Linked DNA regions of Homo sapiens: region 1 is linked to region 2. The links come from fine-mapping of genetic effects on gene expression. A gene starts in region 2. The other region holds a variant in brackets. All regions are shown on one strand. Distances are from middle to middle.

The links.
Region 1: its variant is fine-mapped to the expression of TP73 in whole blood (TOPMed, PIP 0.97).

The regions. Positions count from the first base shown.
Region 1 is chr1:3,674,977-3,680,334 of GRCh38, forward strand. All of the region lies in intron 1 of TP73 (tumor protein p73), which reads left to right. Among named protein-coding and RNA genes, the nearest start is that of TP73-AS3, 8.7 kb to the left of the region's middle. RefSeq lists a silencer at 5,256-5,358. The variant TG/T (reference allele first, on the strand shown) is at 2,570.
Region 2 is chr1:3,649,942-3,655,260 of GRCh38, forward strand. It overlaps TP73 (tumor protein p73), which reads left to right and starts at 2,575. Exons shown (of 14, transcript NM_005427.4): 1 at 2,575-2,700. WRAP73 (WD repeat containing, antisense to TP73) reads right to left here and starts at 162. Exons shown (of 12, transcript NM_017818.4): 1 at 1-162. The coding sequence starts at 58. RefSeq lists an enhancer at 383-1,226 and a silencer at 2,186-3,135.

The DNA of each region.
Region 1 (5,358 bases), 25 kb after region 2:
GGGGATTGAGACGGTCTCCTCCCACAATGGCCCAGGTGTCTCCTCCCACAATGGCCCAGGTGTCTCCTCCCACAATGGCCCAGGTGTCTCCTCCCACAATGGCCCAGGTGTCTCCTCCCACAATGGCCCAGGTGTCTCCTCCCACAATGGCCCAGGTGTCTCCTCCCACAATGGCCCAGGTGTCTCCTCCCACAATGGCCCAGGTGTCTCCTCCCACAATGGCCCAGGTGTCTCCTCCCACAATGGCCCAGGTGTCTCCTCCCACAATGGCCCAGGTGTCTCCTCCCACAATGGCCCAGGTGTCTCCTCCCACAATGGCCCAGGTGTCTCCTCCCACAATGGCCCAGGTGTCTCCTCCCACAATGGCCCCAGGTTTCTTTGCCACTTCAGATTGGAATCGTTGATCTGCTGAAATAACAGGTAAAATCATTGGTGGTTTGGGAACCACCGGAATCAGAAGTGCATTGAGATGTTTGCTTTAGGGGTGGCCCGGGGCGGGTGGAGTTCCTGGGGGCTTTTCCCTCCTCCCTGAATGGAGGAGGACACCCTGCACCCCTCCTGTGATCCCCCTTAAGAGCCAGTGTCCGGGATGGCTGGGCCAGACGGGGCAGAGGGGCCTGTGTCTCCTGCCCAGGCTGAGTGCGGACGGCTCGGTCTCAGAGCTCCACCGAGGGGTGGGTAGGTAACAGCAGCCCTGCGGCCAGGGCCCCTGCAGGTGGGAGTGGGTGTCCCCATGGGGAGTGCCTCTTCCAGAGTGGGCTCAGTCGGGGTGGAGTGTCCTGGCTTATCAAAGGTGGTTGTGGAGCCCTGTCTGCCCCAGGCCTGGGCAGAGGTGGAAGGGGTTGGGGAACTGACGAGGCCTTACCTGTGGGCCCATGGCCAAGGAAATGTCTGGTCTCCCACCTCCTGTCAGGTGGTGAGGGGAGAGGATGGGGCGTCAGCCGGAGACGGGGTTCCTAGAGGAGGCTGGGTCCTGGCCTGGCCTGGAGAGATAGGGATGAGATGGGAGGGCAGGAAGGGGGTGGTAGACAAAGGCTGAACACAGAGAGCACATAGCCAGGCATGTGGGGACTGGGGACAGGGGACAAGGAGGGCACCCATGGGGACAAGAGATAGGGAGAGGACAGAGGGACAGGAGACGGGGAGGGACAGAGGATGGGGGACAAGGAGGGGACAGGAGGACGGGGACAGGGAGGGGACACAGAAACAGGAGCTAGGACGGGGACAGAGGATGGGAGAAGGAGAGGTCAAAGGGACAGGGAACAGGGAGGGGACCCATGGGGATAGGGCAGGGATCTATGGGGACAAGGGACAGGGAGGGGACAGAGAAACAGGAGATGGGGAGGGGACAGAGGGATGCAGACAGGGAGGGGATAGAAGATGGGGGGCTAGGGGACAAAGGGAAAGGGGACAGGGAAGGAACCTATGGGGGACAGGGAGACAGGGGGACAGGGAGAGGACAGAGGAACAGGGGACAGGGAGGGGATGCTTGGGGACAGGGAGGGAATGCTTGGGACAGGGCAGGGGGACAGGGGGCTGTGGCTTTCGTGGGAAGCTATGGAAGACGAGGCCAGAGGGGTTGGGCAGGGTGAGATGAGAGAGGCTGAGAGCCCCTCACCGGCTGCGGACTCCTCCCCACAGGGCAGAGGGGAGCATTCGGGTGCGGCCAGGCCATCAGAGGACCTGGGCTTGGCTGGAGTCCCAGCTCCTCAGCCCTCAGTAGCTTTGGGCCAGCCACTGGGCCTCCTGGCCTCCACTTGCTCATCTCTGAACTGGGGCAGGGTTGGCGTGTGAGCCTGAGGCCCTGCAAAGTGCCTGGCCAGCCTCAGCTCGGAGCCATGGCACAGCACCCCCTCTCCGCCACGGCCCCGACAGCTGGGCGTGCGTTCTGCTGTGGGCAGCTGCCCTGAGCAACGTAGGGTGCTAAGCAGCATCCCTGTCTTGCACACTAGATTCCACAGCACCCTCTGACCCCGTGGAAAATGTCCCCACATGGGAATATCCTCTGGGGGTGGAACTGCCCCTGGTGAGAACCCCTAGGCTGAGACCTCAGAAGGCCCTGAGTCAAACCGAGAAGTCATCAGAGAGCCTTGTTTTCAGCTCCAGGGAGCTTGGGCAGGCTGGTTTTCTGGGCCACACAGTCCCCTCCCCAGCCCACCTGTGCTCCGTGGGTCCCGGGGAAGCTGTGGGGGCCTAATTGCTGGTGTGAGTTCCTTTCCTGTTCTGAGTCACACGTGTGTGGGGGCTCTCCCTGTGGTGCAGCTGGTACAGCGGCCCCTGGAGTTGAGGATCCAAGCAGGCTGAGGTCTGGGTTTGCCGGAGGGCCCTCGGTGGCTGGTCTTTGTCCTGCTCCCACTGCTGTGGGCACTGTAGGACTTGGAACGCTGGTCACCTTTCCAGCCTGGCAAAGGGAGGGGACTTGTCTGAGGCCTCATGGAAGTTGGGGCAGGGTCGAGGTGCCCTGCTTCCTGGGTGTGCCAGCAGCCTACAGCCTGGCTACAGCGTAACCAGGAACACCCAGCACAACTGTCCTTTGCAACTCTGTGCCCTGACTTGATGGTGCCAGGGC[TG/T]GGGGGGTGCCGGCCAGCAGCTCCCCAATGACCACCCCCAAATGCTGTGGCCACACAAAGCCTTCCACTGCAAGACCTGTGGTAATACACACTGGACGCCCCTGTTACAACTGAGAACTCATTTATTTCATTTCCTTCCTTCCCTTTTTTTTTTTTTTTTTTTTAGAGTTGTGGTCTAGCTCTGTTGCCCAGACTGGAGTGCAGTGGTGCAATCATGGCTCACTGCAGCCTCGAGCCCCTGGGCTCAAGTGATTCTCCCACCTCAGCACCCTGCGTGGTTTGGACTGCAGGCACATGCCATCACGCCCTCATGCCCAGCTAATATTTTTTTAAGTTTTTGGAGAGCTGAGGTCTCCCTGTGTTGCCCAGGCTGGTCTCAAGCCCTTGGGCTCAAGTAATCCTCCCTCCTTGGCCTCCTAAAGTGTTGGGATTACAGTTATGAACCACTGCACCCAGCCCATCCCTCCTAGACTAAATCTTCTTAGAAAAACCTACACTTCCAATAATGTATTTGCATTTTATGATGTTGATAAAACTTCCTAAAGATGTCTTATGAAATTGGTCTCCTTTCCCCATTGATACACATGATTTTTAAAACTATTGGCAACGTTTCAAAAGCAATTTCTGTTTTGTCCCAGAACCGTGATCCCCTTGTGAACGAATTTTCAAATTAAAAGGCAAATGGTTGGGAAAATTGGATTTAATTGAAAGGCCATTTTATTAGAATTGACTTATTTTTCTCGCCACTGGGATCCTTGCCTGAAAGGCGGCTGTGGGCAGAGGGCACATACTCCCCCTGCCCCAGCGCAGCGTCCCTGCACCCCCAACAGAGCTTCCTGTTCCTCATGCCCAGTACTCCCAGATGCCTGCGGAGCCAGTCATCAGCTCAGGTGTGTGAGGCCGGTTGGGGGAGCCCCTGCCTGGCGCCTGTGCCTGTGAGCAGTGTTCCTGTGGGGCCCTGGGACCAATGCTACCAGCGTTGGCGTTTTCCCAGGAAGTTGGGAATCAGGCATCTCGTGGCTTCCGGTTCAAGTTCCTCCGTGTGCTTTAAGTCTGGGCAGGTTTCCGGGTCCTGGTTTTGGCTAATGAGGAACCCGATTCCCATGGGGGAGGCCGGTGGCTGCAGCAGGGCCCCGAGCAGTGGCAAGGCTGGCCCTCATGACAGTGTCCTCCTCAGGGGGCCTGTCCCAGGCTCTTCATGACTCCCCTGGAGGCTTGTTAAAGGGGCAGATTCCTGGGCCCTGCCCCAGCCCCACTGTGGGGAGGGGTGTCCTGGAAGATGCATCTGCCCAGGGCTTCCGGCTGGTCCACACGCCTGCACCTGGAGGCCCACTGCCCACATCTCAGGCAAACAGGCCTGGGGATGTTTGGGGACCCAACTCCTGGCGTGGAGGAAGCCCCTTTCCCACCCCACATGCTCCTGGTGGTGGCCTGTCCTGTGAGCCTGGAGGGCCGGACGGGTGGGATCGGGGACCCACGACCACGCTCGCTGGCCTCTGTCCTGTGCCCAGGCAGGGATGAGAGGCCAAGCTGGTGTCCTGCAGTGCACAGTGGGTGCCGGTCAGGGGATGTGGAAGCTGGGTCTCCGGCAGGCAGAGGCGCGCTGACAAGAAGGGTCGCTGTTCCTCATTCAGGGTTCAGTGGGAAGAGAGGGTGTCGCTTCAGGGGGAGTTCACAGGATGCCGACTTGAAAATACAGCCAACGCCCATGTCCCAGGCATAAGATCACAAATCATGTTTTGCCGACCAGTTCCTGTGAGCCCTGAGCCCTGCGCGGAGGGATGCCCCGTGCACACCTGTTCACGGAACCCCTGGACCTCCAGTAGGGGTGCGGCGGGATGCCGTCGGCTCCCACGCTGTCTGTCTCCCTGTCCCTCTCTCTTTCCCTCTGTTTCTCTGTCTGTCTCTGTCTGTCTCTGTCTCCCTGTCTCTCTCCATCTCTCTCTGTCTCTCTCCCTGTCTCTCTGTCTCTGTCTCTCTCCATCTCTCTGTCTCTCTTTGTCCTTGTCTCTCCCTGTCTCTGTCTCTCTCACTCTCTGTCTCTCTTTGTCCTTGTCTCTCTGTTTTGTCTCTCTTTGTCCCTGTCTCTCTGTCTCTGTCTCTCTCTCTCTTTGTCCTTGTATCTCTCTGTCTCTCTTTGTCCCTGTCTCTCTCTGCCTTTGTCTCTCTCCGTCTCTCTTTGTCCCTGTCTCTCTCTGCCTTTGTCTCTCTCCGTCTCTCTTTGTCCTTGTCTCTCTGTTTTGTCTCTCTTTGTCCCTGTCTCTCTGTCTCTGTCTCTGTCTCTCTTTGTCCTTGTATCTCTCTGTCTCTCTTTGTCCCTGTCTCTCTCTGCCTTTGTCTCTCTCCGTCTCTCTGTCTCTCTTCCTGTCTCTCTCTATCTCTTTCCCTGTCTCTTTCTGTCTCTCTTTGTCTCTCTCTTTGTCCCTGTCTCTCTGTCTCTCTTCCTGTCTTTCTCTTTCTTTGTCCTTGTCTCTCTCTCTCTGTCTCTCTCTTCCTGTCTCTATCCCTGTCTCTATGTCTCTGTCTCTCTTTGTCCTTGTTTCTCTCTGTCTCTCTGTCTCTGTCTCTCTCTGTCTTTGTCCCACCTTAGCCTTGGGAGGGGACAGCTCACAGGCTGACAGATGAGGTCATGTGTCCTGAGCATGAGGTTTTCAGGTCTCACCCACGCTGTAGCATGTCAGAGCTTCGTTCCTTTTCATGGCCGCGTAATGTTCCATTGCTTGCTGGCACCACATCTCCTGTGCCCGGCCCTCTGCTGATGGGCGTCTGGGCTATGTGCACCGTTCAG
Region 2 (5,319 bases):
CGTCCGGGGAGAACTTGCAGAGTAAGCTGGAGAGCTTGAATACCTCGGAGAAGTTCATGGCCGCCGCCTGCCGCGGGCGCCACCCTGCGCCCGAAAACCCGCGGGACCCCTGGGCGCGCAGCAGGCTGCAACAGCCGACGCCGGCCTCCGAGGCCGGAAGTCAGAAGGCGGAAGTGAACTGCAGCCTATCAGCGCCGCCGGCTTCCGCGCGGCATTGTGGGGCTTGTAGTTCTTGTGCCGCAGGGCTTTAAAGGAAACGCCCACGTTTCTTCCGACCAGGGATTTCCGACCCGAGAACCTTACCTCAAAGGCCGGGAGGCCTTTGAGCACCTCCAGCTAGGGCTGCTGATAAAAATGTAGAAAGCACAGTAAAATTTGAATTTCAGATTCACAACAAATCTAGTTATAAGTATGTTCCCAAATATTGCACGGGACATGCTAATACGGAAAAATTACTCGCTAGTCTGAAATTCAAATTTAATTGAGCGACCTGTGTGTCTGCGTGTGTGTACACATGCATATATATATATTTATATTTATATGTAAATGTATGTTTACATGTAAATATATGTTTACCTACAAATATATCTTTAATAAGTAATACGGTGTCTGTCGCACATATATTATATCGTGTATGTAATGTATAAGTATTTATTTCGTTTGCTTGGGGTTTTGTTTGCTTTTGCTGAGTCCGACCCCTCTACCTGCCGCCTGGCCCTTGCCTCACGCTCCAGTGCCACTGAGATCAAGGAGAGAACGAATTTGCCGCTGACTGGGCAGAGCGAGCGCGTGGATCGCGGCCACCGCCCGTTCATCACCCGCGCGCATCTGGGCTGGCACCGGGCGAAGAATCGTGCGGGTCTGGGACCTGGGGGCCCAGAGGGAGCGAGCTCCTGCGCGGGCGCTCGGTCCGCAGGTTTCGCAGGCTCAGGGGCGTGCCTCGTTCTCACCCCCACTCCGGACCCCGGTCCTCTTCCCTAGACAGCGGCCCCCTCCACCCCTGGCTCCCGCAGGCCGCTAGTAGTCCGCGCCAGGCCCCGCCGGCGCCTCTAGGGCCCCCCAGATCGCGCAGACCCTGACATCCCCGCCTGGCCCTGGGTTCTGGGAGCTGAGAGCCGGCCAGGGTCCTGCTCGTACCTCCGGGCGCCCAGCCTCGGGTCTGCTCCCCGCGGACGCCCCAACCTCCCCGGCCGAATGGATGGTGGTGCGCGCGCGTCCTACTCCGGCGGTGCCGGCCTTTTCTGTTGCCAAAACTAGACCCAAACCTCTGCATGGGATTCGTCTTTGGGTCCCCACCCCGTGCGCCCAGCAAACAGTGGGTGAGCCATGAAGATGTGCGAGTCAGCCGGACCCTCCCCGTCAGGCGCGGACCCGCTGCGGCCAGAGAACCCAGTCTGCGCCAGCCCGGCTCGCTCGCGAAGCCACGGGCTTCACTGACGCGACTTTCCAAGACGTGGGGGTCACCATGGGCAGAGGACATCGGTTCGGAGCCAGATCACGGGCCCCATAAGCATCAGACCATAAGCAGCGCCGCCACTGAGAGCCGCTCGGAACTCGCCCAGCATGTCGGGTCCCCTAGCCAGGGCCTGGTGTACGTGGTCGAGGGCCCTGGAAGCCCCGATGGCCTAGGAGGAGCAGGCGGGCGGGGCGGCGGGTGTCGCTGGCCGGTAGAGAGCTTCGGCCTGACCTAGCGCAGGTCTGGTGCGCGCAGAGAACAACTCCAAGCGCACCGACGCCCGCGAGCTCCTTCCAAACACCGAACGGGATCCAGAGCCCGAGCCCACAGGCGGCGGCCGGGGGAGGGAGCAGGGTGCTGGCCGCCGCCCGGGAGTGTTCGCGTCCTGGGTGACCCCTGGAAGGACGTGGGGCCCAAACTCCGGCTGGGGTTGGGAGAGCAGCCCCCAGAGGCTCTCCGCGGGATCCTCTGCCGGGCGGGACCGTGGCTCCACAGGAGAAGTGGGTGGCAAGCCCTGCTTGGCGGAAAGCAGCCGTTCCCCTCCTCCTGGGCCTGGGGCGGCGCCCCTCACCCCTGTTCCCCGCCCCTCACCCCTGTTCCCCGCCGGCCACATCCCCTGCCCCTTGGATTCCAAGCGCCCCGCGCGCCGAGGAGCCCAGCGCTAGTGGCGGCGGCCAGGAGAGACCCGGGTGTCAGGAAAGATGGGCCGTCTGGGGGACAGCAGGGAGTCCGGGGGAAACGCAGGCGTCGGGCACAGAGTCGGCACCGGCGTCCCCAGCTCTGCCGAAGATCGCGGTCGGGTCTGGCCCGCGGGAGGGGCCCTGGCGCCGGACCTGCTTCGGCCCTGCGTGGGCGGCCTCGCCGGGCTCTGCAGGAGCGACGCGCGCCAAAAGGCGGCGGGAAGGAGGCGGGGCAGAGCGCGCCCGGGACCCCGACTTGGACGCGGCCAGCTGGAGAGGCGGAGCGCCGGGAGGAGACCTTGGCCCCGCCGCGACTCGGTGGCCCGCGCTGCCTTCCCGCGCGCCGGGCTAAAAAGGCGCTAACGCCCGCGGCCGCCTACTCCCCGCGGCGCCTCCCCTCCCCGCGCCCATATAACCCGCCTAGGGGCCGGGCAGCCCGCCCTGCCTCCCCGCCCGCGCACCCGCCCGGAGGCTCGCGCGCCCGCGAAGGGGACGCAGCGAAACCGGGGCCCGCGCCAGGCCAGCCGGGACGGACGCCGATGCCCGGGGCTGCGACGGCTGCAGGTAGGAGGCCCAGGGCCGGGGGGCGGTTCGGCTCCGCGGGCGGGGGCTGGAGCGCAGCGCTGGGCAGGCACCTGGGCTCGCAGCTCCGAAGCTGGGAGGTGAGGGGAGAGCGATCGGGGACGAGCTGGGACAAGGCGACACAGGGGCTCCCTCGGAGTTGGATCGGCCCCTGGGACTTGGCGCTCGCGAGAGGCTGGAGCGGCCAGAGTCTAGCCTGCGAGGAGACGCGGGTCCTGCCCTCAGCGCCGGCCGCCTTTGGCGCCAAAGACAGCCCCGCAGGGGTTCCGGGAGGGCCCTCCTCCTGCTGTCCCCTCTCCACCCCGGGCTCCGAGGGCCGTTGGGAGGGTAACCCCGGGAAGAGGCCGGGGTGCGGGGCGCGGGTGCAGGTGGAAATCGCCAGCAAGCTCCTCCCCGCCCGCGCGCTCCCTCCGACCTGCAGGGCTGTGCCAATCCCGAGGCCTCAGCTTCCCTGAGGAGCCAGGGCCAGGCCCCCCTCTGGACAGGGAGAAGGATCTGGGCGGGGGCCTTGACCCATGGAGTTGGTTACTAAGCGGTTTCGATGGTTTCCCGAGGGACAGCTCCCTGTGGCTCTGAGTTTGTCTGTCGAGGGCTCCTGGCCTGTCTCCGGAGCGGTCCCAGGTAGAGAAAGCCCGTGAAGAAATGGCCCGGGCCGGCCTGGAGGGAGACACCTCACGCCCCCTTAGCTCCTGGGCCGCCTCCTCCTGCAGCCCCTGCCTTTCCCGGGGCTTGGACTTGGGGAGCGATGATTACCTTTGCTCAGCTTGTATTTTGGCCTGGACGCTAGGAGATAAGCCCATGTAGTATGCACACGTCTGCTACATAAACAGGGGACAGATAGACGATCTTCAACCAGCAAGGGTGCAGGGAAAAGCAATGCACCCCAAACTTCTGACCAGAGGTCATTTGCTTCCAAAGATGCTGCCATCTGTTTATTCACTGTCTGGACATTTGGAAATGGCTCAGGCTCATTAACACAATGCTTTGGTTTTTGTTGTTTTGTTTTTTGTTGCTGTCATTGCTGTTTATTTGTTCAGCCTTAGCTCTGGGGGAGGAGTAAACAAAGCGCGTGGCCTCTGGCACTTACTGAGCGCTGAGCCACCCCTCTTTGGATTTATTCGGGGAAAGATTAAAAAGCATTTCATTAAGAACAGGACACGGTGTTTGAAATGTTGCCATATATGAATGTATGCATTACGTATGTAGTTTTTAAAATAAGATAAAAAGTTGGCTGGGCACGGTAGCTCACGCCTGTCATCCCTCACAGCCTTTGGGAGGCCAAGGTGGGTGGATCACCTGAGGTCAGGAGTTCGAGACCAGCCTGGCCATCATGGTGAAACCCAGTCTCTACTTGAAATACAAAAATTAGCTGGGCATGGTGGCAGGCACCTGTACTCCCAGCTACTCGGGAGGCTGAGGCACAAGAATTGCTTGAACCTGGGATGGAGAGGTTGCAGCGAGCTGATATCATGCCACTGCACTCCAGCCTGGGCAACAGAGCAAGACTCTGTCTCAAAAAATAAGATGAAATAAGATAAAAGTTGGTGTCAGAGGCTGCAGTGTGGCAGCTGCCTATTGTCAATCAGAGGTAGCCTGGGGTGAACGGAAGGCGGACCTGAGCGGGGCTTGTCTATGCGCGGCGGCCACCAGAGAATGGCTCGGGATGTGAGCCCTGCCTTGCAGTCCTTCTCGTGAAAGCTACAGCGAACAGTAGCTGTCTCCAAATCCCGAAGGCCAGTCGCATGGAGAAGCTGGTCTGGCACAGTGGTTAATGGGGTAGTATGGAAGTCAGAATGCTGGGGTTCAAATCTCCTCTTCCCCATTTACTCCAGCAAGTCACTTAACCACTTGGAGCCTCAGGTTACCCATCTGCAGAGTCGGGTAATAGTAGTTCCTGCCTCAGAGGCTTGGAGAACAGTCAGTGAGGTGCCGTCCGAAGGGCTTGGGAGAGTGCCTGGCACCCACTCAGTGTCCTCACACATGATGGCTTCGGGTCCCAGGTGCTGTTCCAGAGCTGGGAGAGCCAGGAGCCCTGGGGAGAGACCCGGCTCCTTAGTATCTGGTAGGTATCTCCAGGGCAGGAGGGATGGCAGTGAGGCAGGCATCTGCCCAAGGCGTGGGTGGAAGCTGATGGCATCTGTCAGAAGTATGCACTGGGGCAAGGATGCCTGGTTTAGTATTTATTTATAGGGCATGCCCCACCCAGGTCCAAGAATGGATTGATAACACTGAGCACGTGTGAAAGGCACGGCTAAAGTGGAGAGAAGAGAAGAGGCTGAGGGCCGAGAGAGGAGCCGCACACCCACTCCAGAACCCGGACGAGGCCCTGCCCTTGCCCAGCGGCGGTATTAACCCTGAGATTCCGAGCACACCAAAGTGACATCGCGTACACGGTGAACCCTGTGTTTGCAAAAAGTCAGAAAAAGTCTTCAAAACATCCTTTAAGGCCAGGCGCCGTGGCCCACGCCTGTAATCTCAGCCCTTTGGGAGGCCGAGGTGGGTGGATCACTTGAGATCAGGAGTTCAAGACCAGCCTGGGCAAAATGGTGAAATCTTGTCCCCACCAAAAATACAAAAATTAGCCGGGGGTGGTGTCTGGTG